Homo sapiens: one gene and its partners. The protein of the gene in region 1 binds, or shares a complex with, the protein of each later gene. Each region holds a gene or a part of one and is shown on either strand. Other genes may lie near its edges. The genes, in order: NUP93, NUP205, NUP85 and NUP160.

What was found.
Region 2: NUP93 (region 1) and NUP205 share a complex: the UniProt entries of both Homo sapiens proteins name them as parts of the nuclear pore complex.
Region 3: NUP93 (region 1) and NUP85 share a complex: the UniProt entries of both Homo sapiens proteins name them as parts of the nuclear pore complex.
Region 4: NUP93 (region 1) and NUP160 share a complex: the UniProt entries of both Homo sapiens proteins name them as parts of the nuclear pore complex.

What each region holds. Positions count from the first base shown.
Region 1 is NC_000016.10:56,725,428-56,733,128, forward strand, and holds the start of NUP93 (nuclear pore complex protein Nup93), read left to right. Parts: upstream 1-4,701; 5' UTR 4,702-4,784; intron 4,785-7,701. UniProt on the Homo sapiens protein: Plays a role in the nuclear pore complex (NPC) assembly and/or maintenance. May anchor nucleoporins, but not NUP153 and TPR, to the NPC. During renal development, regulates podocyte migration and proliferation through SMAD4 signaling.
Region 2 is NC_000007.14:135,574,894-135,581,920, forward strand, and holds part of NUP205 (nuclear pore complex protein Nup205), read left to right. Parts: intron 1-1,376; coding exon 1,377-1,521; intron 1,522-2,075; coding exon 2,076-2,235; intron 2,236-2,902; coding exon 2,903-3,131; intron 3,132-3,857; coding exon 3,858-4,022; exon of another isoform or gene 4,023-4,033; intron 4,034-7,027. UniProt on the Homo sapiens protein: Plays a role in the nuclear pore complex (NPC) assembly and/or maintenance. May anchor NUP62 and other nucleoporins, but not NUP153 and TPR, to the NPC.
Region 3 is NC_000017.11:75,201,098-75,208,680, reverse strand, and holds the start of NUP85 (nuclear pore complex protein Nup85), read right to left. Parts: upstream 3,003-7,583; 5' UTR 2,920-3,002; coding exon 2,887-2,919; intron 155-2,886; coding exon 61-154; intron 1-60. UniProt on the Homo sapiens protein: Essential component of the nuclear pore complex (NPC) that seems to be required for NPC assembly and maintenance. As part of the NPC Nup107-160 subcomplex plays a role in RNA export and in tethering NUP96/Nup98 and NUP153 to the nucleus.
Region 4 is NC_000011.10:47,845,338-47,853,024, reverse strand, and holds the start of NUP160 (nuclear pore complex protein Nup160), read left to right. Parts: upstream 1-4,706; coding exon 4,707-4,806; intron 4,807-5,065; coding exon 5,066-5,177; intron 5,178-7,687. UniProt on the Homo sapiens protein: Functions as a component of the nuclear pore complex (NPC). Involved in poly(A)+ RNA transport.

The DNA of each region.
Region 1 (7,701 bases):
GCTAATTTTTGTATTTTTAGTAGAGATGGGGTTTCAGCATGTTGGCCAGGATAGTCTCAATCTCTTGGCCACATGATACGCCCATCTGAGCCTCCCAAAGTGCTGGGATTACAGGCGTGAGCCACCGTGCCCAGCCAAATTTTTGTATTTTTAGTAGAGACAGGATTTCACCATATTGGCCAGGCTGGTCTCGAACTCCTGACCTCAAGTGATCCGCCTGCCTCAGCCTCCCAAAGTGCTGGGATTACAGGCATGAGCCACCGTGCCCAGCTGAACCTTACTTTAAAAAATGTTTTAATAGACATTTTTTTAGAGCAGTTTTAGGAGCACAGCAAAATTGAGCCAAAGGTACAGCGATTTTTCACATACCCCCTGCCTGTACACACGCCTAGCCTCTCCGATTACCAACATCCCCCACCAGAGTGGTACATTTCTTACAACTGATGAGCCCATTTGATGCATCATGATCACCCAGTCTGTAGTTTACATTAGGGTTTACTCTTGGTGTTGTACATTCTGTGGGTTCAAGCAAATTTGTAATGCCGTGTATCTAAAAGCCTCATCTTTTTAATAATTAAAGTTGACCATTGTCTTCACTGAACTTACACAGAAACAAAACCATGCAATATAATTCTGTATTCCTTGCCAAGTTACAATGTCATTGTGGAACAAAATGCAATGAACATGAAAATAAGACTTTCTCAGCTTCTTTGTAAATGGAACTGTTTAATATTATTTTGTTAATGGGTAGAATAAAATGTAATCTGATGGTGAAAACATTCTTCTTGACATTGTGGAAAATACCTCCCTATATTGCATGTGATGGAAAAGCAATTCGACTGGGAAAAGTTTACTGAATTAAGCTTACTGAATTCTGGCCTATTGACCTTATAATAAGCATGTTAGATGAGACGTTATAAGGGCTCAAGTAATACCTGCATCCTTCAGGATTATTTTGATTGCAAGTGATGTAAAACCTCAGTGAAATTGAGCAAAAAATAAAATTTTCTGGGTCATGCAACAAAACATTCCAGGGTTAGGGTTAGCTTTAGGCACAGCTTGATCCAGAAGCTGTGTCACAATGTCACTTGAGTACAGGCTCTCTCTCCATCACTACATGGCTCTCTTCTGTATTGTCTTCCTCCCCAGACAAATTCTTCCCTTGTGGACAATAAACAAACAGGCCGGGCATGGTGGCTCATGCCTGTAATCCCAGCACTTTGAGAGGCCAAGGAGGGCAGATCACTTGAAGTCAGGAGTTCCAGACCAGCCTGGCCAATATGGTGAAACCCCGTCTCTACTAAAAATACAAAAATTAGCTGGGTGTGGTGGCATACACCTGTAATCCAAGCAACTAGGGAGCCTGAGGCACAAGAATCACTTGAACCTGAGAGGCAGGGGTTACAATAAGCCAAGATTGTGCCACTGCACTCCAGCCTGGGCAACAGAGTGTAACTCTGTCTCAAAATAAACAAACAAACAAACAAACAAACAAAAATTTGAAAGGAATGATAATGCCTACAAAAACATCTTCACAGTTCTAATTTATTCCAGTCATAAAGATAAGTGTCTGAGCAGAACATCTTAAGAGTGCATTTTCTTGATCCTATTGGGTTCTAAACCAGTTCCTGAACCAGTCCCTGTGGCCAGGGTACTGCACTACTCTGCTCTGATTGGCGAGGCCTGAGTCACATGCCACCAATCAAAACACAGGGACTGAGATTTGGGGCAGGAACGCTCCACAGGGGAGTCCAAGTGTTAAAAGACGTCCCATTAGAGAGCAAATGTCTGGTAATACGGTATAGTGCGTTGAATACACATCCCATATACTCAATGAGTTCATCTGAAGACTAAGAATATTCAAAAGCACAATTCAACCAGACGAGAGTACAAAGGCCTGTGTTTGTTTGATATCATCATGCAGCCAAAAAAGGTAGAGTTATACACTTGGTATGTATAGAAGACATGCAAAATCTGTGTTACAATACAGGGTTCCATCAAATACTTCCTTTGAAAAACAGGATTCTGTTAAATAATGTTTGGGACCCAGTAGGACTAAATGAGGGAAGGTAAGGACTCTCCACCACCACCCAGCTCCCTTTTAAGTAGGAAAGAGCTTGAAAATCCCCACCTCTGAGAAAGGGGCCTTGCGGGGGCTCTGGGGCACATCTCAGAACAATTCTCAAGGCAAAGGCTCTTGAAAGATTCTGAGCTCAGATAAAGTGATGTTTAAGGAAGCTCTTCTGGCAAGGCATGAGCCAATGCACCCAGTTCTCTTAAAAACAAGAAAACAAAAAACAAACCAAAAAAACCAAATAATATATTGTTTATGCACAGATACATTTGTGATAAAACTATAAAACATTGGAATGATAAATATGAAATGTCAGATTGTGGTTATCTCTGGGGATAGGAAGGTATATGGGAAGACCATCTGGAAAACTGCAAGGTTTTTTAAGATGAGGTGTCACTCTGTTGCACAGGCTGGAGAGCAGTGGCACGACCAGGGCTCACTGCAGCCTTGACCACCTGGGCTCAGGTGATCCTCCCACCTCAGCCTCCCCAGTAGCTGGGACTACAGCTGCACACTACCATGCCCAGCCAATTTTTTTGTATTTTTTGTAGAGACAGGGTTTCACCATTTGCCCAGGCTGGTCTTGAACTCTGAGGCTCAAGCTACCCTCTTGCCTCAGCCTCCCAAAGTGCTGAGATTACAGGCGTGAACCACTGTGCCTGGCCACTTTTTCCATTTAACATTATGTTTCCAAGATTCATCCATGGTGTATCTGTGGCTGAAGCACACTCATTTTTCACTGCTGTGTAATGCTCCATTGCATAATATCCCACAATTTATTTATCCTTTTTTTTTTTTTTTGGTTAACAGATATTTGGCTTGTTTCAAGTTTTTTGCTAATATGAACTGTGCTGCTATGAAGATTCTTACTTATAACTCCTGGTGCATATGTGTAAGAGTTTCTCTAGGGCATATATCTAGGAGTTGAATTACTGGGTTTTACAATGTAGAAATATTCAGCTTTAAAAGGCAAGTGTCCGGAATTTTCATTTGGCAATATTGCACAAGCATTTGTCTATGTCATTAAAAGTGCTTTTTTTTTTTTTTTTTACATAAAGAAAAAGCAAAGTAAAAGTATAAAACATTATTCAGATGCAAGATACTATTATCTTTGTGGATATTCTCTGACCATAGCGGGGTCTGGTTACATATATAATAGCTTCAGGGCAAAGGCCACATTCATACATATTGTTAATCAGCACCAATTATTTATAGAGAACTCACAATATGCTGGTGTGAGGTATTAAAAATAAACAAAGCTGGACACTAGTTGCTATAGACTTCTTAATGTTTGTGTCCTCCCCCTTCAAATTTATATGTTGAAACTCTGCTCTCCATTGGGATGGTATTAAGAGGGGAGGACTTTGGTAGGTGATTGGGTCATGAGAGTGAAGCCCTCATGAATGGGATTAGAGCCCTAATAAAAGAAATATTGGAGAGCTCCCCTCACCCTTCTGTGTGTGGTTACAGGGAGAAGAGTGCTATATTAGTCCGTTCTCATGCTGCTGTGAAGAAATACCTGAAACCAGGTCATTTATAAAGAAACGAGGTTTAATTGACTCACAGTTCCGCATGGCTGGGGAGGCCTCAGGAAACTTATAATTATGGTGGAAGGCACATGTTCACAGGGCAGCAGGACAGGGAATGAGTGCAAGCAGGGGAAATGCCAGACGCTTATAAAACCACCAGATCTCATGAGACTTACTATCGTGAGAACAGCATGCCAGAAACTGCCCCCCATGATCTGGTTACCTCCACCTGGTCTCACCCTTGATATGTGGAGATTATGGGGATTATAATTCAAGGTGAGATTTGGGTGGGGACACAGAGCCAAACCATATCAAGTGCTATCTATGAATTAGGAGGCAGGCCCTCAGCAGACACTGAATCTGCGGGTGCTTTAATCTAAGGCTTCCCAGCCTCTAGAACTGTGAGAAAAAAATTTCTGTTGTGTATAAGCCATCCAGTCTATGGATGAGTCTGACCCCACTTGTCCCTACTCACCATCTTCCAGCCGCACACCCCTTCTTTCTAGTCTCCAAACACTAAGCTGGCTTCCCCTGGAGACTTCACTCTTGTTCCCTCTGCCTGGAATTCTTTGAAGCCAGAACTTTGCAAGCCCCATCCTTTCTCATCCTTCTTTATTCAGCTCAAGATGTCGCCATCTCAGAAAGGCCTCCCTTCAACATCCAAGCATTCTCTCTCCCATCACCCTGTTTTTTCTTCATAGCTCTTCTTGCAAAGTGCAGTTATTTATTACATTTTTGTTTCCCCTGCCAACCTGGGAACTCAATGAGGGCAGCGATCTTGTCTGACGTGGTCGCCACGGTGTTGCCAGTTCCTAGACTAAGGCCTGGCCCTTGGATGGCGCTCAAGAAGGAGTAAGAAATTCCTTTAACTTAGGGAATTCTGGAATCGCTTTCTCCCGGCAGAGCCGACTCTAACCAAGTGGGAAAGGCGAGGTCCGTGGCTGCCTGTGGCCCAGGGGTGACGGTTTGGCCCAAGGCCCCACCTCCGCCCCGCCCCCGGCCCCGCCCCTGTTCTTGTCCTCCCCCACGGGTCTCCATAAAGTTCATTTGGCGTCGCACCGCGCGAGGGCTTCTGGGAGCGGCCAGCCTTGGCCAATCAGGAAGCGGGGGAGAGCGGCGCGAGAAGCGGCGGCCGCGTCCTCAAGCCGGCACCTGAGCGGCGGAGACGGCTGTAGCACAAGGTAAGGGTGTGTCTGGTCGCGTCCTTGCGACCCTGGGCTTGTCCTTGAACCCAGGACCCCGTGACTGGGTGGAGCGCCGTCCCCACGCTCGGAACCCCGCCGCTCATACTTCCCGTTCTCCTCATGGCAGCCGGGCACGCCTGACGCCGGCGACACAACGCCTTGTCGAGCCGCCCCCGAGGCTTGGAGTCGGGCTGCATCCCTGGGGGTGCCTTTCATTCGTCCACTTTCTGAATGCAGAACCTAGGCCTCCCGACTCCCCCTTCCCCACTGTGGTGCCCTCGCGCCACGCCCCTGCCCTCACCTCCACCTCGTGCCCCGCGAGCCCACCCTGCCTAAGCCTGCGCCACAACGCCCCGCCTGCTTACCTTCCTGACCGTGCCCTGCCTGCTTGCCTACCCCTCGTGGACACACCCTGTAGGGAGGCGTTGCTCTGCGAGGGAAGGGGTCTTTGGGGCGAGGGGAACTTATCCCAACCCTTGGCTTACCTTTTGTACATCCAGGAGGATGCTGGTGATTGGAACCCAGGGGTGGCCCACCCTTCTCTGTGCTTACTCCATCCCGTTCCCTGCAGAGGCGATGCCCAAGTTCACTGGGTTTCTTTTGAAAAAATTATGGGGCCGACCCCATGGGTCCTTGGTGAAAGTATGAAAGACACGTTGACAGAGCCTCTGGTCTGGATTTGCCCTTCTGCCAGACGTGGGAAGGAGGTTTTATTTATTTAATTTTTATTTTGACCGAGTTGTCTTTCAGCAAAAGCGAGGGTCACCTTTTTGTATTCTTTCCAGGGTATGTGGGAGGGTATCCTCGGTCATCCTAGCTTTTCTTCTTTATTTTTTTTTCTTTAAATTCTCCTTTGTGCATTTGTGTTTGCAATATTTTTATTTTCATTGATGGTGATTTCATAGCATTAAATACATACATATCAGAGGCTAACAGATTCCGTATTTATATCTCCATCGCAGGTCTCACCCCTGACTTTTATCCAGCCACCCACTTAATATCTCCACTGAGATGGGTTATAGGCAACTCAAATTAAACATGCCAAGAGAGGGCTAGCAAGCTCCCCTTCATTACTCTCCCCAAACTGCTCCTGTTGCCTCTTTTTTCTCATCTCAATAATAGGAAAGACCTTGGCTAATAACTTTTGAGCCATCGTTGACTGCTGTCTTTCTTTTTCTTTTCTTTCCTTTTTTTTTTTTTCTTTTGAGACAGTCTCCCTCGGTCGCTCAGTCTGGAGTGCAGTGGTGCGATCTCGTGTCATCGTGTGACTGCAACCTCTGCCTCCCAGGCTCAAGTGATTCTCCTACTTCGGCCTCCCAAGTAGCTGGGATTACAGGCGTGTACCACCTCACCTGGCTAATTTTTGTATTTTTAGTAGAGACGGGATTTCACCATGTTGGCCAGGCTGGTCTTGAACTCCTGGCCTCAAGTGATCCGCCCATTTCGGCCTCCCACAAAAGTGTTGGAATTACAGGTGTGGGCCACCACACCCAGTCTTCTGTTTTTCACGCCACAAATAATACTTGCCACCCTGGGCCAGGTCACCACCTCTGGTTTGGATTATTGAAATAGTTTCCCATTTGGTCTTCCTGCTTCTGTCCTGGCCCCTGTTTTTTGCACAGCAGCTAGAGGGATCTTTTTAAAACACAGGCTGTCAGATCGTATCATTCCTTTACTTAAAAGAAAAAAAAAACCCTCCAATGGGTCCCCATCTCATTAATAATGATAGACAAACCCCTTTACAGTGAGCTATAAGGCTTTACATAATCTGACCCACTGTTACTTTCCCAGTCTCATTTTCTGCTCCCTCCCTTTCCAAACGTCAGACATGCTTTAGCCTCAGGGCATTTGTGCTTGCAAGTTAATATCCATGTAGTTTGCACTCACTTCTTCCAGGTCTTCACTAGGGAGGCACCTAGTGAGGCTTTCCCCATTTCCCGCCTCCCTTCATTGCTTTAGTTGTTCTTAGCACTTATATTTCACGTATTTTTCTTGTGTATTGTTGTCTTCCCCCTGTAGAATGTGAGTGAGGGGATTTTTATCTGTTTTGTTCACTGATGTGTTCCTAGCACCTAGGTCTGGCACACAGTAGGTGCTCAAAAAATATGAACTAGATGAATGTTACTGGCACTCTTGCAGGCATGGGGATGCAGTGGTGAATGAGACAGGCCTGCCCTCATTGAACTGATAAGCCTGTGGAGGGTACCACTAGCAATAAAAGCACAGATAGGAAGTGTGATGTCAGGGCTGTTTCTTAAAGGAGGACAGGGATATTTGAATAGAGACCTGCTTGAAATGAATGAGCAGGTCATGGGACTATCTGAGAGCATTGCTGGTAGTGGGTAGAGCAGGTGCAAAGACCGTGCAGTGTGAACAGCTGGAGATGTGGTGAGCCTGAGGGTCTGAACCAGCCTCTTCATAGACTGATGTAGAAAATAAGGTTGACAGAAAGATGGATGTGCCAAGGAGGGGGACAGGTTGGAGCAAAGATCCGAAGGTGAGAGGGCCCACTCCTCATGAAAAAGTTTATTTAAAGAATATGGAGTTAGAGGGAAGATCTTTCACTGGTGTGTTCAGGGAACAGGTCACTTTAATTCAACAAATATGTATCTGATCCTGTTATGTGCCAGACTTAATGCTGAGGACTCAGAGTTGAGCATCTGTGGACCTTACCCTATAGGAAATTTGCCACTAGAGAGGGAGACATATGTGTGATGAAATAATCACAACTGCTGCACTAGGGAAGAACAGTATAGAAGATTCAGAGTAGTGTGGGAGGGGTTGGCATAGGTGGGACTTTCCCAGCTGGCTGCAGCATACATAGGAGTTCCCCATGTGACAAGATAGGGTTGGGGATGTGTTATAGAGAGTGTGTACTTAGCATGTACAGGAGTATGAAGGGAGGAAACAGGCA
Region 2 (7,027 bases), on another chromosome or scaffold:
TAATATATGGCTACCAAAATCCTTTTTGACCTAAGCCTGCACTAAAAGAAGTATGATATTGAGAATGAGGGGGATGTTCACTAGACATGCTTGAGTTTTGAGTTTAACTCGGAACTTTCATTTAACAAACATTTCTTCTATACCTACCATGTGCCAGGCATGGTGTTAATTATATCACTCCAGTGATATAAAGATGAATAAAATCTCAACTAGTGTAAATACGCTCATATTCTAATAATTGAGAATGATGTGGAAACAAATATTTTGACACAATTAAGTACAATTAATGCAGTTTTGTGCAAGATTTAGAGATGGTCCAGAGATTTAGAGATGGTATTAGATGGACCTTGATTGTACAGAGAACTCTTAACAACATCATGAAGTTTAAGGTAGATGTTGCAAAATGAGTAAGCATACATCAGGTGGAATAGGTGGTTATTTGGGAGGATGAAGGGCATCCAGGCAGAAGAAATTGCCTGTGCAAGAGGGTGAAGCAAGGTGATGAATTTGGGGAACAGAAAGGAGTAGAGTGGAGGAGTAGTTGCAGTAAGGGGAAAAGAAAGCTTTAGGAAATGAAACTGAAACTATAGGCAAAGTACTCTTAAAAAAAAAGTGAAACTTAGCCAGGCGTGGTGGCTCACACCTGTAATCCCACCACTTTGGGAGGCCAAGGCAGGTGGATCACGAGGTCAGGAGTTCAAGACCAGCGTGGTCAACATGGTGAAATGCCATCGCTACTAAAAATACAAAAATTAGCTGGGTGCTATGGCAAGTGCCTGTAATCCTAACTACTCAGGAGGCTAAGGCAGGAGAATTGCTTGAACCTAGGCGGCAGAGGTTGCAGTGAGATCACGCCACTGCACTCCAGCCTAGGTGACAGAGTGAGACTCCATCTCAAAAAAAAAGGTAGAACTCATTCAAAGGAGAGTAGTTAAAAGGTGACTGAACTTGAATTATAAAAAGGTTGTTTATTCAGAGAAGATTCCGAGGGAAGAAACTTAGAAATATTTGAAAGATTCCATATGAGATAGTAAAATGGGCATTGAATAAAATTAAATTTAGTGGACAACAGTGAGACCAAAAGATTCTCACCCAGTATGTAGAAATCACAGGTAAGTGTGAGAGTTAGAAATTGAGAGTTTGGAAAATGGTGAATTCCATGTCCCTGCTGGTGTTTAGGGATAAGTTGGATGGCCCTCGAATATGTTGAGCAAGAAGTTAGACAGTGGATGGATGTTTGTAGTAGAGGACCCCAGGGCCCCTTAAGCCCTGAGCTACTGTGATTCTTTGAACTGAACATTGTTATATTGATTTTTGTCTCCTCCTAAACACATACGTGTTTATTAACAATATTATTTCTCAACTTCCTTTTTTAGGAGAGCATCAACAGCCACATTTTCCTGGCCTTACCAGAGGATTAGTAGCTGTTCTTCTGTACTGGGATGGAAAGCGATGCATTGCGAATTCCTTGAAAGCCTTGATACAGTCTAGACGGGGAAAGACATGGACCCTAGAACTCAGGTCTTTTTACTTCTTGGGATTTCAGGGGTTAATTTGAAATTACTTGAAGTATGACAATATTTCCCTTATTATATACAATCTGAGCAATATGTAACATAAGCTGAGTAATATACTCCCTTATTCTGCCAAGACAGATATAACAATTTAAACCTGTTTTATTGTGTTTATAAATAAAAAATAATTTGGACCGAGGTGCAGTGGCCCAAATTATTTTTGGATTACAAAGTGCTGGGATTACAGATTACAGTCTTGAGCTCAGGAGTTTTAGATCAGCCTGGGCAACATGATGAAATCCCATCTCTACAAAAAATAGAATAATTAACTGGGCATGATGGCATGCACCTGCAGTCCCAGCTACCTGGGAGGCTGAGGTGGGAGAAAGACCTGAGCCTGGGACGTCAAGGCTGCAGTGAGCCATGATCACGCCACTGCACTCCAGCCTGGGTGACAGAGCAAGGCCCTGTCTCAAAAAAAGAGCGTTTGCTATACCTATTATTATGAAGAAGCATAAACAATATTGTTTAACGTAGTTTATTGATTTCTTTTCATTACAGTCCAGAGCTGGCTTCCATGACAACACGCTTTACAGATGAGCTGATGGAGCAAGGATTGACTTATAAAGTTCTTACGCTGGTGTCACAGATTGATGTGAATAATGAGTTTGAGAAACTACAGCGAGAGAGAGGTTTGGGCAGTGAAAAACATCGCAAAGAGGCAAGGGTTCAATGAAATCAATTCATGAGTTGTCTGTCAAATCTCAGAGGCAGAAACATGACAATTAGAATGTTCATTTTTTCAAGATGAATTATGTAGCTGATACCATGCCTGATTGCCACTTTTCTTTTTTTTTGCTTTTATTATTTTTCATTGACACAAAACTGTACATATGTATAGGGTACAGTGTGGTATTTTGATACATATGTATGATATGTAATAAATCATAATTAGCATATCCATCACCTCAAACGTTTATTATTTCTTTGTGTTGGGAACATTCAAAATTCACTGTACTACTGTTTGACAGTACAGTATACAATAAATTGTTAATTGTAGTCAGCTCGTAATGTATATTAAAGTTTGTAGTCAGCTGTGTCCATAAAATTGACTTGCAGTTGTTTCAGCTTCGGTATAGTCATTTATGTGCCATTCTAGCTCTTTTTATGAAATGAACAAGAAATTGGTCATCCCAATTTCTTAAGGAACTTAAGGATAAGGAATAAACAATAGGGTTTGTTCAGAATTCCAGAGGTGACGTCTTAGGATCACTTGTGGATTTTGATAGGTTTTTTTATTAGCCTTTGTAAAAGGTAGTTTGTACTTTGGAATAAGACCAGGCTTCACTGTAATTTATTTATACTGATAGTCATGTTTTTATTTCTAGGTTTCTGATCTCATTAAGGAGTGCAGGCAGTCTCTTGCAGAAAGCCTTTTTGCCTGGGCTTGCCAGTCACCTTTAGGCAAAGAAGACACTCTCCTCCTCATTGGACATTTGGAAAGAGTGACAGTTGAGGCTAATGGCTCACTGGATGCAGTGAATCTGGCTCTTCTTATGGCGCTTCTATACTGTTTTGATATCAGTTTTATAGAGCAAAGCACAGAGGAACGAGATGGTATTGAGTTTTATACATTTTCCTACATTAAAAAAATCAGATTTAAAATTGTGGGGATAACATTTAAAAAGGGTGATATTTTAGCTACTAAAATAGTCTGCTCTGTTCCTGTGTTTGCAGTCCGTTCATATTTGAATATTTATATATAAGATCACATTTAAAAAACAGCTGCAGTCCTGTTAATTATTTCTGTTTTTTGGGGGGATTTGGAATGGAAAGTATTAAAGCATATATTATACATGTTCATGATTGCACATGCCTAATTTACTTAATTGCTTGTTTCTTTACCATTCATTTACATTTTCAAACTTTTTATTAAAACATTCTGAGACAGTGACTGTCATTTCAGTAATGTAATCTTTGATCTGTGTTTTCTGTGAAGTAAATAAAATTTTTGTGATCTTTAGATAGCATGATTTCTATTTTAGAATTTATGTGCAGAAAAAATGAGTGTCTAACTTTTTTCTTGTTTATTTGTAGTACACTTATAAAAATGACTGAAAATAGTGAAATTGAAATTTAGGATTATTGTCATTTTCTTTTTTTGTTTTTAGTATGTGTACAATCAACAGTAGTGTACCTTTTGGGATGTAGAAATTAATGTTAATTGGTCATTATTCTTCTGTGAGAATGCTCAGATTTTCTGACTTTTGGATATTATTCCTGTGTATCAGAAGTGAGAATTTATCTGGTGATCGGTAAAGTGGTCTATTTTTGTGTTTTCAGATATGATTCATCAACTTCCACTGTTGACAGAAAAACAGTACATTGCAACAATTCACTCTCGTCTTCAGGACTCACAGCTTTGGAAACTGCCTGGGCTCCAAGCCACTGTTAGACTTGCCTGGGCGCTGGCATTGAGGGGAATATCCCAGCTACCTGATGTGACAGGTGAATTGATTGTAGGTAATTTTGTTATGAGAAACAGCATGTTAGCACTTAATGACATTTTTGGAAGGAGTATTATCTTTGACATACATAAGCATAAGCATAGGAAGATATCCAGAGTTGTATTAAATGAAACCTTTAGTGTAGTAGTGAAATACAGACTTTTTTCTCCTTGTCTCTCAAAAATATCATATGAAATACTATTTCCCATTCTTGGAGCCACTGACAATGCTCTTTTACCTTCAGGGTATGAGTTTAAAATTTGGAATGACAGTGTCACATTAATTTTTTTTTTTTTTGAGATGGAGTTTTGCTCTTGTTGCCCAGGCTGGAGTGCAATGGCACAGTCTCGGCTCACTGCAACCTCTGCCCCCCGGGTTCAAGCGATTCTCCTGCCTCAGCCTCCCAAGTAGCTGGGATTACAGGCATGCGCCACCACACCTGGCTAATTGTGTATTTTTAGTAGAAATGGGGTTTCTCCATGTTGGTCAGGCTGGTCTTGAACTCCCGACCTCAGGTGATCCGACTGCCTTGGCCTCCCAAAGTGCTGGGATTGCAACACGTGAGCCACCCCGTCCGGCCTTAAATGTTTTTTAAAATTAAAATATACTATTCCTTTTATTTTTATATATTTTACTTCTTGATTTGTTCACAAACTAGTTTTTCACATTGTGTCAAATTAAAAACAGTTATTTTTCCATACAGTGTATTAAAAAGGAGATATTTGGATCAGTCAAGAACAGATGTGGAATCCCGACTTTTCTTTTTTGTGGCCCAGGCTGGAGTGCAGTGGCTCGATCCCGGCTCACTGCAACCTCCACCTACTGGGTTCAAGTGATTCTCCTGCCTCAGCTTCTTAAGTAATTGGACTACAGGCACACGCCACCACACCCGGCTAATCTTTTGTATTTTTAGTAGAAACAGGGTTTCACCATGTTGGCTGGGCTGGTCTCGAACTCCTGAGCTCAGGTGATCCACTTGCTTTGGCCTCCCAGAGTGTTGGGTTTACAGGTGTGAGCCACCGCGCCTGACCAGAATACTGACTTTTAACAACCTGTTAACTCACTGTAGCATATATTATTCTGCTATTTACATTTACATTATTTAATTGTCATATTAGTAGGGGTTTATTCTAACAGAATGAGAACCATACATGGAACACGAAGCCCAAAGAATTGTCTTTTTATGGTAAATCTAGAAAGGCTTTATTCAAGTTTACAATTTATGTCAGTTTTCTAATCCTAAAGTATCAACAGATTCTAGTATCTTATCAATCGTGTAATTCCAGAACATTTTGTTTTCACTAGTGTCATGCTGTTCCCAAGGTGTTTGCAGAAAGCTTTTTTTGTGTTAGGAGTCTTTCTTTGGCCAGTTAATTTCTATCTGTCTGTCATCTATATATCTAAATGCTGATAGCGAATTAGACTTTTACATTCCCGTACAAATTCTGTTTCTCACCTGTACGTACCCTCATCATTTATAAGTCTTATTTCACTACTTTTCTGACATAAAGTTACCCTTTAACCTTTGAAGTGGCTATGTGATAGTTAATATCTTCTTTTTTTATTTTGGAGATGGAGTCTCGTTCTGTTGCCCAGACTGGAATGCAGTGGCATGATCTCAGGTCACTGCAACCTCTGCCTCCTGGGTTCAAGCAATTCTGCCTCAGCCTCCGGAGTACCTGGGACTATAGTCGCACGCCGCCACACCCAGCTAAGTTTTTGTATTTTAGTAGAGACAGGGTTTCACCGGGTTGCCTAGGCTGGTCTCGAACTCCGGAGCTCAGGCAATCTGCCTGCCTTGGCCTCCCAAAGTGCTGGGATTACAGGCGCGAGCCACCATGCCCAGGTGTGATAGTTAATATATTAACTATATAATATAGTTATACATAGATAGTTATTATAATATTATGTAATATGGTCACAATCTTATGCTATAATTGCCCATACCACTGCACTAGTTTTGAAAGGTTTAATAGAATATGCTATAGTTTGCTGTAGAATAATAGTAAAAATAGGTTAGGAATCACAGCCCTAGTTTCAAGTCCCAGATCTTTGGCTACTTAATCTCTTTGATTTTATATGCTCATATCCTTTTATAAGCTTTAATAGTTAGGGGTATTATAATTAGAATTTTTAAACTATAAAAATTTTTCTGTTAATTTGCATTTTAAAAATTGTTAGAAAAAATGACTAGCTTGTGTTATTTTGCAGAAATGGTCACTTCTTGAAATAATCCAGACAAGTTTTAACGAAGATCTCCAATTTGAAAAATTGGTTTCTGTTCTCTTCATAGACTTCTGAAACTTTTATCAAATGTTTTTATTATATTATTCTATAAAAGGCATGAAGCCAGGTGCAGTGCCTCATGCCTATAATCCCAGCATTTTGGGAGGCCAAGGTGGGAGGATTGCTTGAGCCCAGGAGTTCATGACAAACCTGGGCAATGTAGTGATACCTCATCTCTTCAAAAAATTAAAAATTAGCCCAGTGTGGTGACATGCCCTTGGCTGTAGTCCCAGCTACGCAGGAGGCTGAGGCAGGAGGATCACTTGAGCCCAGGAGAGAGGCTGTAGTGAGCTGAAATTGCTCCACTGCACTCCAGCCTGGGTGACAGAGTGAGATCACATCTCAAAAAAAATTAAAAAAACAAGCATCGGCCGGGTGTGGTGACTCACGCCTGTAATCCCAGCACTTTGGGAGGATGAGGCAGGTGGATCGCTTGAGGTCAGGAGTTCAAGACCAGACTGGCGAACGTGGTAAAAGCCCATCTCCACTAAAAACACAAAAAATTAGCCAAGCATGGTGGCGCGTGCCTGTAATCCCAGCTGCTTGGGAGACTGAGGCAGGAGAATTGCTTGAACCTAGTGGGCAGAGGTTGCAGTGAGCTGAGATCATGCCACTGCACTTTAGCCTGGGTGACAGAGTGAAACTCTGTTTCCAAAAAAAAAAAATCAACAAAAAAACCAAGCATTTTTGTAATTTCACTAAGCTTTACAGAATTTTAGC
Region 3 (7,583 bases), on another chromosome or scaffold:
ATAAACAGAAAAACAACCAAATGTGCCAAGATGGATAATTTGGAAGAAAAAAAACCCTACCTTTTTTGTTGAAGGAGGTTTCACATACCAGCATCTCCCCTGGACCCCAGTCAAAATACATTTGGTTCTTCTTGGAATTCACGCCTGGAATCAACTAGTAAAATAAGGCATAGAAATCTAAAATGAAAAATGTTCTTCTTACTGAAGTTGTTCCATTCTTTTTTTTTTTTTTTTTTTTTTGAGACAAAGACTCACTCTAACAGGCTGGTGTACAGTGGTGTAATCTCAGCTTGCTCCAATCGCCGCCTCCTGGGTTCAAAGGCTTCTCCTGCCTCAACCTCCTGAGTAGCTGGGACTACAGGTGTGTGCAACCACACCCGGCTATTTTTTTTTTTTTTTTCATTTTTAGTAGAGATAGAGTTTCACCATATTGCCCAGGCTGGTCACAAACTCCTGAGTTCAGGTGATCCGTCCGCCTCAGCCTCCCAAAGTGCTAGGACTACAGGCGCGAGCCACCGTGCCCGCCCTGCTGAAAAACACTTTAAGTGAAGAGCACAGCTGGTCCTCTAATAACACTGTATCCTTCAATAACATTTCCTTATAACACTGGTAAGAAAAATTCATTTTGGGCCGGCAGCGGGGTGGCTCCTGCCAGCACTTTGGGAGGCTAAGGCGGGCAGATCATCTGAGGTCAGGAGTTCGAACTCTTGTTGCCCAGGCTGGACTGCAGTGACGCAATCTCGACTCACTGCAACCTCTGCCTGCTGGGTTCAAGTGATTCTCCTGCCTCAGCTTCTTGAGTAGGTGGGATTACAGGCACGCGCCACCAAACCAGGCTAATTTTTGTATTTTTTTAGTAGAGATGGGGTTTCACCATGTTGGCCAGGTTGATCTCGAACTCCTAGCCAAGCGCGGTGGCTCATGCCTGTAATCCCAGCACTTTGGGAGGCCGAGGCAGGCTGATCACGAGGTCAGGCTTTGGAGACCAGCCTGACCAAGATGGTGAAACCCCATCTCTACCAAAAATACAAAAATTAGCTGGGTGTGGTGGCACGCACCTGTAATCTCAGCTACTCAGGAGACTGAGGCAGAAGAATCGCTTGAACCCAGGAGCCAGAGGTTGCAGTGAGCTGAGATCACGCCACTGCACTCCACTCTGGGTGACAGAGTGAGAATCCGTCTCAAAAAAAGAATGAGGCCAGGCGCAGTGGCTCACACTTGTAATCCCAGCACTTTGGGAGACTGAGGCCGGCAGATCACCTGAGGTCAGGAGTTCCAGACCAGCCTGACCAACATGGAGAAACCTCGTCTCTACTAAAAAAATACAAAATTAGCCGGGCATGGTGGCACATGCCTGCAATCCCAGCTACTCAGGAGGCTGAGGCAGGAGAATTGCTTGAACCTGGGAGGCGGAGGTTGCAGAGAGCCGAGACCGCACCACTGCACTCTAGCCTGGGCGACAAGAGGGAAACTCCGCCTCAAGAGAAAAAAAAAAGAAGGCCACATATCTCCCCAGAGAGCTTCCCTCACAAATTGCTCACAAGGAAATTCCTTGTGAGCCTCTAAAATTTTCAGGATACACATCGCCCCTATAAACTAGTCCTAAAATCAAGATCTGTTGATTCTGACAATGTCAACTACCAGCTTATCTTCACAAGTAAAAGACCAGAAATCGGCCGGGTGCGGTGGCTCACGCCTGTAATCCCAGCACTTTGGGAGGCCGAGGTGGGCGGATCACGAGGTCAGGAGATTGAGACCATCCTGGCCAACACGGTGAAACCCCGTCTCTACTAAAAATACAAAAAAGTACAAAAAATTAGCCGGGCGTGGTGGCGGGCACCTGTAGTCCCAGCTACTCAGGAGGCTGAGGCAGGAGAATGGTGTGAACCCGGGAGGCGGAGGTTACAGTGAGCCGAGACCGCGCCACTGCACTCCAGCCTGGGAGACAGAGCGAGACTCCGTCTAAAAAATAACAGTAATAATAACCATAATCCCTCTACCTACCCTGAGATGAATGCATACATAAAATTTTCCTCTGCTCCCTCTTTTCACAGGTAAAATGCAGATTTACTGAGGCTAATCACCGACTCACAAGAATGTAATCATTTGCCTCCTCACTGCCTAACCTCCCTTTTTTGCCCCTCCTGCTAGCTCCTTCCTCTTTAACTAGTGATGTTCCCAAAACCATCTTTGGAAAAAGCACAGGTCTCAGATCCTCCTGTGACCTGTGCTTTTTCCCGGTTGGATCCTCAACCTTAGCTAATTAAACCTTTATCGGTTGAGACCTGCCTCAGTCACTTCTGGTTAACAAGAGGGAAAACAAGAGCAATCCAACTAGCAGAAACGGTAGGTATCTCGTACATAAAGCGCGTGAATTTTTTTTATACACATCACAGATCATCCACAGTTGACATACTGTCTTCAAAGTTCAAATGGAATTGAATGCACAGCGATAAAACAGGAATAGTCTCCTGAGATAATACGTTGAATAAACCTTAGGCCACACAGGCAGAAGCTCAATGTGCCGCGATGCAGAGCTTAATACGGCTGGAATAAAAATATAAATTCCTCTGCTTGGGCTGAACCCACTCTAATGCCCAAGAGGAAAAGCAAGGGAAGTAAAAAGGCCAGGAACACAAAGGAAGGAAAGGGACGGAGTGGGACCTTCGAGGCCGGGGTTTGTGACTGGTGGCAGAAACCCCGCGACCACTGCGACCCTAGGGCGGGCACCTCGTTAACACTGCGACCTCCGGAAAAGTGGCAACTGAGTCGAGGGAAGGGGACGAGCGCCTCGCGACCACTAGGGAAGCAGACAAGCCTGAAGTAACTAAGCAGACGCAGTTCTCAACCCGCAAGGACGAGCAAGCCTGTTCGGGGTACCCTTACAGTGACTGTTGGCTCGCCATCGAGCTCCTCCATAGCGCCGAACCCCAGGCTCCTAGAAGTCGCTCGGACGCCAATGCTTCCCGCTCAGGCCTCCCGCTCAGAGCTGGCTGCGAGACAAGACTCCGCCTGGGCGTCTCCTGCAGCGCCTGCAAGCCCAAACCCTCAGTGCTGCGGCGCTGTCTCCTCTCAGCCACGGCCACCCCTCTGCGGTCCTCTGCACGCGTCCTTCCTTCCTGGCGTCGACAGCAAATCAGGGAAAACAGCGCCGAGGACTGACTGCACTCAGAGTACCGCGCTAACAGGATCAGGCGGCGCCGGGGACACCCTGGTGCCGAGCGGAGAAAAGGCCCCCGGAGACGGCGGGAGGGGCAGGAGGACCCCGGGGCTGGAGACGGTGCGAATGCGCGTGCGTAGGCTGGGGCGGCGGCACTTGGGTGGGAACTCGTGCGGGATTTAGGTCCCAGTAAGCGTACAACGTCTCCCAACTCTGGGAGTCCTCGCTACATCCCGGTCTCCACCTTAGTGTCGTCGCAGCCACTTGTCCAAACCCCGACAGTCAAACGGGCTTGTGCTGGAAAGCAATCGCCTCCACTTCCACACTAGAACACACACAAGAGGCACGGGAACAAAATCGATACCCCTGAAGGCCCGGCGCTGTGGCTCAAGCCTCTAATCCCAACACTTTGGCAGCCCAAGGTGGGTGGATCACTGGAGTTCAGGAGTTCAAGACCAGTCTGGCCAATATGATGAAACCTCGTCTCTACTAAAAATATAAAAAATTAGACGGGCGTGGTGGCGGACACCTGTAATTCCAGCTACTCGGAAGGCTGAGGCAAGAGAATTGTTCCAACCCGGGAGGTGGAGGTTGCATTGAGCCAAGATCGCACCACTGCACTCCAGCCTGGGAGACAGAGCGAGACTCCGTCTCAAAAAAAAAAAAAAAAATTAGCTGTGCTTGGTAGCGCGCGCCTGTAATCCCAGCACTCCGGGACGCCGAGGTGGTTGGATCACCTGAGGTCAGGAGTTCAAGACCAGCCTGGACAACATGGCGAAACCCCGTCTCTACTGAAAATACAAAAATTAGCCGGGAGTGGTGGCGGACACCTGTAATCCCAGCTACTCGTAAGGCTGAGGCAGGAGAATTGTTCCAACCCGGGAGGCGGAGGTTGCAGTGAGCCAAGATCGCGCCACTGCACTCCATCCTGGGCGACAGACGGAGACTCCGTCTCAAAAAAAAAAAAATTATTTTGCTGAGTCTCAAAAAAAAATTATTTTGCTCTTTTTCTCTTAATAAGTTTCCGTTATACCTCAAGTTGGAGTTATCGCCTGTGTAATTGAAAACTTTTCCAGAGTTAAATACAGTTTGAGAGTTAACCACTCTAGAGAGAGGAAGGGGAAAAGAGAGGGGAAGGAGCCACACTCTTTTAGAGAGAGGGGAGGAGAGGAAAGAGAAAAATAAGTTGTAAGATAATTGTTTCATTTTTCCAACCGTTTTCCATTAGGATTAACTGAAAAAGAAGGATACATAAACTACTTCATCAAAACCTTATTCTTAGAAATCTATAGAAAGGTTGAGGAAGGAAAAGGTCCATATATAGTATGCGTAATCAGTATATAGAACAAGGATAGGCCGGGCGCGGTGGCTCACGCCTGTAATCTCAGCGCTTTGGGAGGCCGAGGCGGGTGGATCACCAGGTCAGGAGAGAGAGACCATCCTGGCTAACACGGTGAAACCCCATCTCTACTAAAAATACAAAAAAAAAAAAAAAAAAAAAAAAAAATCAGCCGGGCGTGGTGGCGGGTGCCTGTAGTCCCAGCTCCTCGGGAGGCTGAGACAGGAGAATGGCGTGAACCGGGGAGGCGGAGCTTGCAGTGAACCGAGATTGCACCGCTGCACTCCAGCCTGGGCGACAGAGCGAGACTCCGTCTCAAAAAAAAAAAAGAACAAGGATAGCACTATTAGCTGTAGTTTTCCTTTTTCGCCCTTGTATTACTAAGCCTATTTGAATGATTGGGTAAAATGGTTGGTATATAGCAGTATTAGACCAAAGAATATTGCCAATACTTTTTCCTCAATGTTATCTAGCTCTTGGTCAGGCAATTTAACTACTTTTATTATCTTAAATGGCATTTTGTCAGCCTTAAAATAAAAATAATCAAGGAAATATAGCACTAAGATCTAACAAGCTCTCTCTCTCTTTTTTTTTTCTTTGTCTTTTTTTTTTTTTTTTTTTTTTTGTCTTTTTGAGACAGAGTCTTGCTCTGTCGCCAGGCTGGAGTGGAGTGGCACGATCTCGGCTTACTGCAACCTCCGTCTCCCGGGTTCAAGCGATTCTGCTGCCTAAGCCTCCCGAGCAGCTGGGACTACAGGCACACGCCACTACGCCGGGCTAATTTTTTATTTTTTAGTAGAGACGGGGTTTCGCCATATTGGTCAGGCTGGACTCGAACGCCTGACCTCAGGTGATCCACCCGCCTCAGACTCCCAAAGTGCTAGGGTTACAGGCATGAGCCACCGCACCCAGCCTGGTAAAGTCTTAAGTGGATACATTTCATGCAGCCTAATAAAACTAATGCTCCTGAACCGGGCACAGTGTACATTATTTAACAAAATCTCTGGCCTCAGCCTGGGCAACAGGGCAAGAGCAAGATGCTGTCTCAAAAAATAAAAAATAAAAAAAGGCCGGGCGCGGTGGCTCACGCCTATAATCCCAACACTTCGGGAGGCCGAGGCGGGCGGATTACCTGAGCTCAGGAGTTCAAGACCAGCCTGGGCAACAAGATGAAACCCCGTCTCCACTAAAATACAAAAAATTATTTGGTCATGGCGGTTGTGCGCCTGTAGTCCCAGCTACTGAGGCTGAGGCAGGAGAATCGTTTGAACCCTGGAGGCGGAGGTTGCAGTGAGCCAAGATCATACCACTGCACTCCAGCCCGGACGACAGTGTAAGACTCCCTCTCAAAAAAAAAAAAAAAAAAAAAAAAAAAAAAAAAAAAAAAAACTCTAGCTGGAACTAGTGGCACATACCTGTAGCCCTAGCTACAGCAAGAGGAAGGAGACTGAGGCCAGAGGATTTCTTGAGCCCAGGAGTTCAAGTCAAGGCTGCAGTGAACTACGATTGTTATAGCACTATACTCCAGCAAGACCCTGTTTCAAAAGCAACAATATGGCCAGGCGCAGTGGCTCACGCCTGTTATCCCAGCACTTTGGGAGGCCGAGGTGGGCGGATCACGAGGTCAGCAGTTCGAGACCAGCCTGGCCAATATGGTGAAACCCCGTCTCTACTAAAACTACAAAAATTAGGCATGGTGGCAGGCACCCGTAATCCCAGCTACTCCGGAGGCTGAGGCAGGAGAATCACTTGAACCCGGGAGGCGGAGGTTGCAGTGAGCCAAAACCATGCCATTGCATTCCAGCCTGGGTGACAGAGGGAGACTCCGTCTCAGAAAGAAAAAAAAAAAACAAAAACAAAAAAACAGGCTGGGTGCGGTGGCTCACACCTGTAATCCCAGTAGTTTGGGAGGCTGAGGTGGGCAGATCACCTGAGGTCAGGAGTTCGAAACCAGCCTGGACCAACATGGTGAAACACAGTCTCTACTAAAAATACAAAAATCAGCTGGGCTTCATGGCATCCGCCTGTAATCCCAGCTACTAGGGAGACTGAGGCAAGAGAATCGCTTGAACCCAGGAGGCAGAGGTTGTGGTGAGATGAGATCACGTCATTGCACTCCAGCCTGGGCAACAAGAGCAAAACTCCAACTCAAAAAAACAAAACAAAACAAAACAAAACAACACCCCACCAAGAACAAGAACTCCAACTTCTGACCTTTACCCACTAGATGCCAATAACATCCCACAATTGTGAAAACTGAAAATATCTGCATATATTCCCAGTGTCCTCTAGGGGGCAAAATCACCTCTGTTAAGAGCTGCTGGTATATATGTTCAACCGTAGAAGTTAGCTAAATAAATTATATCAGTGAGATGTTACTTTACTCACCTGTTTAAAATAACTATGAAGACTGACAGGACATGAAAAATTATTTCAAAAAGTTTGAAAATGTTCATCTTTTTGTCCTCATAATTACACTTCCAAGAAATAATCAAGAGAGATGTGTTTTATATAAGCACCAAAAAGGAGATTTAAATGAATAAAAGAAGTGCCTCACAAATAATTTTTATGCAGAATTCTTATTAAAAGGTTATTTGGGGCTGGGCACGGTGGCTCATGCTTGTAATCCCAGCACTTTGGGAAGCCAAGGCTGGCAGATCACCTGAGGTAAGGAGTTCAAGACCAGCGTGACCAATATGGTGAAACCCTGTCTCTACTAAAAATACAAAAAATAGCCAGGCATGGTGACCCATGCCTGTAGTCCCAGCTACTCAGGAGGCTGAGGCAGGAGAATCGCTTGAACCCGGGAGGCAAAGGTTGCAGTGAGCTGAGATCATGCCACTGCACTCCAGCCTGGGCGGCAGAGCACGACTCCATTTCAAAAAAAAAAAAAAATGCCAGGCACGGTGGCTCACACCTGTAATCCCAGCACTTTGGGAGGCTGAGGCGGACAGATCACCTGAGATCGGGAGTTCAAGACCAGCCTGACCAACGTGGAGAAACCCAGTCTCTATGAAAACTACAAAAATTAGCCAGGCGTGGTGGCGCACACCTATAGTCCCAGCTACTCAGGAGGCTGAGGCA
Region 4 (7,687 bases), on another chromosome or scaffold:
TTAATTAATTAATTAATTTAATTTAATAAAAATAAAAATAGCAATCATGTATTTAGCTCATTAATATGCAATTTGGACAGGGCTCAGTGGTCATGACTCATCTGTGCTCTACAAAATATCTGGGACCTGGGGACTTACCAGGCATCTCTCACTTCAAGTAGAATTAGAGTCTCTGTGTGTGGTCTCTCCCTGCAATCTGCCTAGGATGGCCCCGGCGTAGCCAAATTTCTTACATGGCAGCTTGCTTCCCCTATAGCCAGTCTTCAAAGAGAGATGTAGACTCTCTTAAGCTAGGCTGGCACAGCATCACTTTTGCTGTATTATATTCCTTATAGCAGTTACAGAACCCTCCAGATTTAAGGGGAGGGGACAAAGAAGGCTACACTTCTGGATGGGAACAATGTCAAAGAATTTGTGGCCATCTTTCTTTTGCCATATGGATATATGAGATTTGGGTGTTGGGATTAAAAGAGAAAAGTCCAGGGTAATTACTAGATTTCTAGACTGGGCCACAGTGGTGATGTCCACACAGATATAGACTACATGTGAGAGTATATAGTGAGACTATATAGAGAGGGGTAACATTTTGGATATGTTGAATTTGAGATGTCCATGGGAAATCCAAGGGGCATCAAGGAGGCAACTGAATATAAAAGGCTGAGAACTCGGCAAAAGAGGTCTGACCTCTAGATATGAAAGTGGAAATAATCAGTCTTCGGAATAGTTCTCTCTACTGTGGCACATCAGTGTCATGAGCAGTTATAACTTAGATAACCAGGAATTTGTAAATAATAACAGTTGAAGTGTGGCCAGGCGCGGTGACTCACACCTGTAATCCCAGCACTTTGTGAGGCCGAGGCAGGCAGATCATGAGGTCAGGAGATTGAGACCATCCTGGCTAACACTGTGAAACCTCATCTCTACTAAACATACAAAAAAAATAAGCCAGGCGTAGTGGCAAGCACCTGTAATCCCAGCTACTCAGGAGGCTGAGCAACTGGAACAGTGCTGGTAACTGCGATGGGGAAAGTAAGTGTGGGGAGAGAGGTTAGGACTTCAGTTTCAGACATGTTACATCTAAGATACAAAATAGGCCGTTGAATATATAAACCTGGACTTCGGGGGAGAAGCTTAGACTGGAGGTATACATTTGGGGATGATCGGCATATAACAATGCAGTATTTAAAGCCAGAAGACTGGGTGAGATTCTCAGGGGAGTGTTTGTAGATGGAAAGGACCAAGAACTGAACTCTGGACACTCCAACATCAAGAGGTTGGGGAAAAGAGGAGCATCTAGGAAAGGAGTCTGAAAAGGAACAGTTAGTGAAATAGGTAGAATCAAGAGAGTGGCGTCCTTGATGCCACATGAAGAATGTGTTTCCACGAGGAAGGAGCAAGCAATTGGTCAAATTCTACAAGTAGTCAAATAAGCTTAGAAATAACAGTTCAGGCCAGGTGCTGTGGCTCACGCCTGTAATCCCAGCACTTTGGGAGGCAGAGGTAGGAGGATCGCTTGAGGCCTGGAGTTTGAGACCAGCCTGGGCAACATAGGAAGACCTTGTCTCTACAAAAAATAAAAAATAAAAAATTTGGCAGGGCATGGTGGCACAAGCCTGTGGCCCCAGCTACTCGAGAGGCTGAGGCAGGAGGATCACCTCAGCCCAGGAGTTTGAGGCTGCAATGAGCTGGGATCACATCACTGCACCCCAGCCTGGATAACAGAGCAAGATTATGTGTCAGAAAAAAGAAATAGCAGTTTAGTATTAGACAGATAATGTGGATGCCATTGATAACCCGGAAAAAAGCAGTTTCAGCAAGGCAGTAGAAGCAAAAGCCTGAAAAACATGGATTTAATGAGGCCAGATGCAGTGGCTCACGCCTGTAATCCCAGCACTTTGGGAGGCCGAGGCAAGTGGATCACTTGAGGTAAGGAGTTCGAGACCAGCCTGACCAACATGGTGAAACCCTGTCTCTACTAAAAATACAAAAAACATTACCCAGGCAGGGCAGCGCATGCCTGTAATCACAGCTACTTGGGAGGCTGAGGCAGGAGAATCTCTTGAACCCAGGAGGCGGAGGTTGCAGTGAGCCGAGATTGTGCCATTGCACTCCAGCCTGGCCAACAATAGCGAAACTCCATCTCAATAAAATATATATATATATATATATATATATATATATATATATATATATATATATATGAGAATGAGAGAGAAGGAATTAAAACACTCTTGAGTTTTGCTGTGGGTGAGAGGAGAAGAGATATGGAGTAGTAGCTGCAGAGAGTGGAGGTCGAGGGAATGTTTGTATGCTTAGTACATACAGTACTAAGAGAAAAGGGGAAAAGACTGAAAATGGAAATAATTGAATTGCTAGAATGATGTCCTTGAGCAGGTGTTCTAAGGAAGTAGAAAGGTTGTCTCTGCATAAGCTCAGAGACAGTTTATAGTAACAGGAAGGGAAGGCAAAATATGTGGTTACAGATGCTGGTAGGTGGGGAGATGTCATTATAGAGGAAGTCCTCCCTTCCTCCTTCCTTCTTTCCAGATGGGTGTCTTTCTGGCCATGCTGGAGCACAGTGGCAGGATTGTAGCTCACTGTATCCTCCAACTCCTGGGCTCAAGAAACCTCCTATAGCTGGGACTACAGAGGCACACAACTATGCCTGGCTAGTTTTTTAAAAATTTTTATTAGAGATGGGGGTATGTTGCCCAGGCTTGTCTTGAACTCCTGGCCTCAAGCCATCCTTCCATCTCAGCCTCTGCTTTAATTTTCTAAATGAAGAAGCAAGCTGAGAGTCAGGATGACAAAGGAGGCAATGGAGGTTATAGGAGTTATGAAATATTCATTTAGAACAGTAAATGGAGAAGGCAAATACAATGTGTTTGCTGGGCAGCATTATGGGCCCACTCAAGGTACATGGTCCTGATGGAGTTACAGGGAGGCATGTCAGTATGGGTGTATAGTTTTCTGTTTTCTTTCTTTTCTTTTTTTGAGACGGAGTTTCGCTCTTGTTGCCCAGGCTGGAGTGCAACGGCGAGATCTTGGCTCACTGTAACCTCCACCTTCCGGGTTCAAGCGATTCTCCTGCCTCAGCTTCCCAAGTAGCCGGGATTACATGAGCGCACCATCATGCCCAGCTAATTTTTCTTTTTTTCTTTCTTCTTTTTTTTTTTTTTTTTGAGACAGTCTCGCTTTGTCACCCAGGCTGGAGTGCAGTGGCGCGATCTTGGCTCGCTGCAACCTCCACCTCCCAGGTTCAAGCGATTCTCCTGCCTCAGCCTCCCGAGTAGCTGGGATTACAGGCGTGCACCACCATGCCCGGCTAATTTTTTGTATCTTTAATAGAGACAGGGTTTCACCATGTTGGCCAGGTTGGTCTGAAACTCCTTACCTCGTGATCCACCCACCTCTGCCTCCCAGAGCGCTGGGATTACAGGCGTGAGCCACCGCGCCCGGCTAATTTTTCTATTTTTGGTAGAGACCGGGTTTCACCATGTTGGCCAGGCTGGTCTCGGACTCCTGACCTCAAGTGATCCTCACGCCTTGGCCTCCCAAAATGCTGGGAGCCACGCCCGACCCGGGTGTATAGTTTTCTCCAGTCATGTTCAGCTACAGATTTGAATGTAGTCGAAGTTGTAGTTTTTACCGATGAAGAGTTAGGCAATGAAGTAATTTAATGGTATTCAGGATAAGAAAGAAACACCAAAGAAGTGTGGGACAGTGAAGATTTTGTAGAACAATGGATTCCAGGTAGAATGAGGGGACTGCACTGCCAAAGTTGGTGTCCCAGAGGGAGTGAAGTGGAAAGATAGAAAATGATGGTCGGAACCAGATAAATGAAACGGAGAATGACAGGGAATGGTTGTGGTCACTGGTAATAGAAGTGCTTTAACTTCTATTGGCTATCACTAAGGAACAAAACCTTCCCCGCTGGAGATTAGCATTTTCCTCGATTTTGAACATCTACTCCCACAATATCTTCTAAACACCCACTATGGGCCCTTACTGCATTGACAGCCAAGTGCAAGATCACGGGTGGAAGGAATGGCAAATTCCTTTCACGTATCCAAGTGAGTAGCACTCAGGTAACCTCAGCAAGTGGCAGCACCAAGGTTTACCACATTACGTTTCATTATACAGGAATACACGAATACAGTCTCTTGGGGAGGGGAAAGACCAAAACCAAAGGCCTTTCCCTCACTACCCCTTCCTCACCCCGCCATCCCAAGTGTCGCCACTGAAGAGCGAAGGGAGGATCGCCAAAGATTTACAGACGGACACCCTAACCGAGGGAGAGGTGACCATAAACCCGGGATCCGGCAGAGGACGCCGAAAGGCCGGGACTCCCCGGACCTCGCCCCTCCTGGTCGACTGAGCCCCGCGTTTTAGAAACAGAAACAAACCCGGCCCCGCCCCCTGCCCTGCGGCCGCTGAGAAAAGAGCACCGCCCTCCGGAGGCGTTCCAGCCGGCCACTGGAAGGTTCCCGCAGATAGAGTCTGCCTCCCCTGCCCCCTTCTCTTCTGGATTCCTCGCTGCCCACCCTCATTCTCCCGGTGGAAGCCTCGCAACGAAGGGCCGGAGCCGCCTTTCTGCTCCCGGAATGCTTCACCTGTCCGCAGCTCCGCCCGCCCCACCCCCGGAAGTGACGGCGACCGCGCGGCCCTGCCTTTGTTCCGTTGGGCGTCGCGGCGACGGCGGGAAGATGGCGGCGGCGGGAGCCCTGGAACGGAGCTTCGTGGAGCTAAGCGGAGCTGAGCGCGAAAGGCCGAGGCACTTTCGGGAATTCACAGTCTGCAGCATTGGTACGGAAATGGCCAGGGAGGGTGCGATCCCATCTGTCCCCTCGGGCTCCTCTCATGGGTCCCAGGGTCCCTGACGCCCTGTTTCATCCTCCTGAGTCCACATGCCTCTAGCCCCGGGATCAGAGATTCCTTGATGTCCGACGTTTTCCTCTTTTCTTTGTATGGGTTGTCAGTCTGTCACTCTCTGCTTTGTCAGCTCCCTTAGTCCCTGTCATTTCTCAGAAGACGCGTGTGCAGGCTGACCACGTTCATTTTGCAGGGACTGCAAATGCCGTGGCTGGCGCCGTAAAATACAGTGAAAGCGCGGGAGGCTTTTACTACGTGGAGAGTGGCAAGTTGTTCTCCGTAACCAGAAACAGGTTCATTCATTGGTAAGTGTTGTGGTTCGCCAAACTCCCCTGGAAGGTAGGGTTTGGTGTATAAATTTTCGTCGCTGTACCCAAAGTGCTATTCTAGAAGCGGTAATTGACACTTAGGGAAAGAGAAAGATTGTTTTTTCAGTTCGTATCAGAATCGGGAAAACTGAGACACAGAGTTCTAGAAGAGATACCTCTCCCCCTCCCCCCCCCCACCCCCACACACACATACACCAAGCAACACCAGAAGCAGAGGAAATGTAGCTTAGGGGAATAAAGCCCATAAGACCAATTTTAAACATGAACCCGTTATGTTTTTATAGTGCTTTACAGCTTCCTTCATTGTACAAATACGTTCGAGCTTCAATATGTCAGGCATTGTGCTAGGTACCAGGACGAAATGAACAAAACTGCAATTTTCATCATGCAAGACGTTGTAGCAATGTCAGAATAGATGTAGACCCACTTTTCATGGGGAAATTTTTTGGAGGAAAACTTGCCCTAGAGGAAAAATATACGGGTTATGAGAGGCTAATAAGAGGACCAAATATAATTAGTGGGGCAGGGAAAGGCTTTAAGGAATTCACAGTTACCCTGAGATCTAAAGGACACGAGGTTAGCCAGGCATGGGGAGTGGACAGAGAGGAGTCCAGCAAGTAGGATCACCATATGCAAAGGTCATGAAGTGGAAAGAATGTGGCGGGTTTGGAACTGACCAAAGATCTGTGTGGCTTAAGTGCAGTGGGTAAAACAGAAAGTGATGTGAGATACTGAGGCTGGAGAGGTAGGCAGGACTCGGACCATGAGGGACCCTTAGGCCATTTTTAAGGATTTTTGGATTTTATCCTAAGTACATTGAGTAATAATTGAAAGATTTTTAAAGAGTTACTAACATCAAAATTGCATTTTTGGATGGGAACAGTTAACACTAGGGATTCCAAAAGGAGGGAGGGAGGGGAGCAAAGGTTGGAAAACCTATCGGATACTGTGTTCACAACTTGGGCGGCAGGATCATCAGAAGCCCAAACCTCATGTATATAGGAATATACACACAATATACTCATGTAACAAACCTGCACATGTACCCCTGAATCTAAATTTTTTTAAATGTATTTTTAGAAGATCTCAGTCTACTTTGTGGAAAGTGGATTTGGATTAGATGGGTATAATACAAAAAAAATTTTGCTTTTATCATGGCCCAAGTAAGGGTTGCTGGTGGCTCAATTGTGGGAATGACTAGAAATAGAAAAGTAGATGGATTCAAGATACCTTTGGAAGATAGATTCACTAGGGCTTGGTGGTGGATTGAATATGGGGTAAGGGATGGTAAAAGAAGAGAGAACAAGGACAGCTCCCTGGTGTCTCATGTGACTAACCAGATGTGAGTGGGGAGGGGTTGCCATTTACAGAGATACCCGGAAGATGGATTTTGGATAGATATGAATAATTCTATTGGACATAGTAAATTTGAAGTACCTGGGGAGCAGCCCTTTGGAAATGTCAAGTAGGCATTGAAGTTTACAGGTCTAAGGCTCAAAAGAGTGACTTTATGTTAGAGATACAAATTTCATTTAATTAAATATTTTGGCTGGGCACAGTGGCTCACACCTGTAATCCCAGCACTTTGGGGGGCTGAGGTGGGAGGATCTCTTGAGGCCGGGAGTTCAAGACCCCATTTCTACAAAAAAAATTTTTTTTTCTTTCTGCTTTTTTTTTTTTTTCTTTTTGAGAGACAGTCTGGCTCCATTGTCCAGGCTGGAGTGCATTGGTGCAATTATGGCTTACTGCAGTCTCCGCCTCCTGGGTTCAAGTGACCCTCCCACCTCAGCCTCCCAAGTAGCTGGAATTACAAGTATGCACCACCATGCCCAGCTAATTTTTCTATTTGTTTTTGTAGAGATGGGGTTTTGCCTTGTTGTCCAGACTGGTCTTGAACTGCCAGACTCAAGCAGTGCCCCGTTCTCGGCCTCCCAACTTGCTAGGATTACAGGCGTAAGCCACCGTGTCCAGCCTGATTTTTTAAAATAAGCCAGGCGGAGTAGCGTGTGCCTTTCATCTTAACTACTCAGGAGGCTGAGGTGGGAGGATCCGATCATGCCACTGCACTCCAGGTGGGAAAAAGGGTAAGACCCCATCTCTTTTAAGAAAACAGGAAGAAAGAAAGAAAATTTGCTTGCCTAATGTATTTCAGTCCGTTTTTAGGGAACAGGGATATAGCAGGGAACAAAACAAAGTCCCTACTCTTATGGAGGAAGATAGGCAACAACAACAATAACCAAAAAACCCCAAGTACATGCAGTTTTGTTACAGGAAAAGGGTGCCGATCCAGACCCCAAGGGAGGGTTCTTGGATCTCGCACAAGAAAGAATTCAGGGCAAGTCCGCAGTGCATAGTGAAAGCAAGTTTATTAAGAAAGTAAAGGAAGCCAGGCATGGTGGCTCACACCTGTAATCCCAGTACTTTAGGAGGCCGAGGCAGGTGGATCACCTGAGGTCAGGAGTTCGAGACCAGCCTGACCAACATGG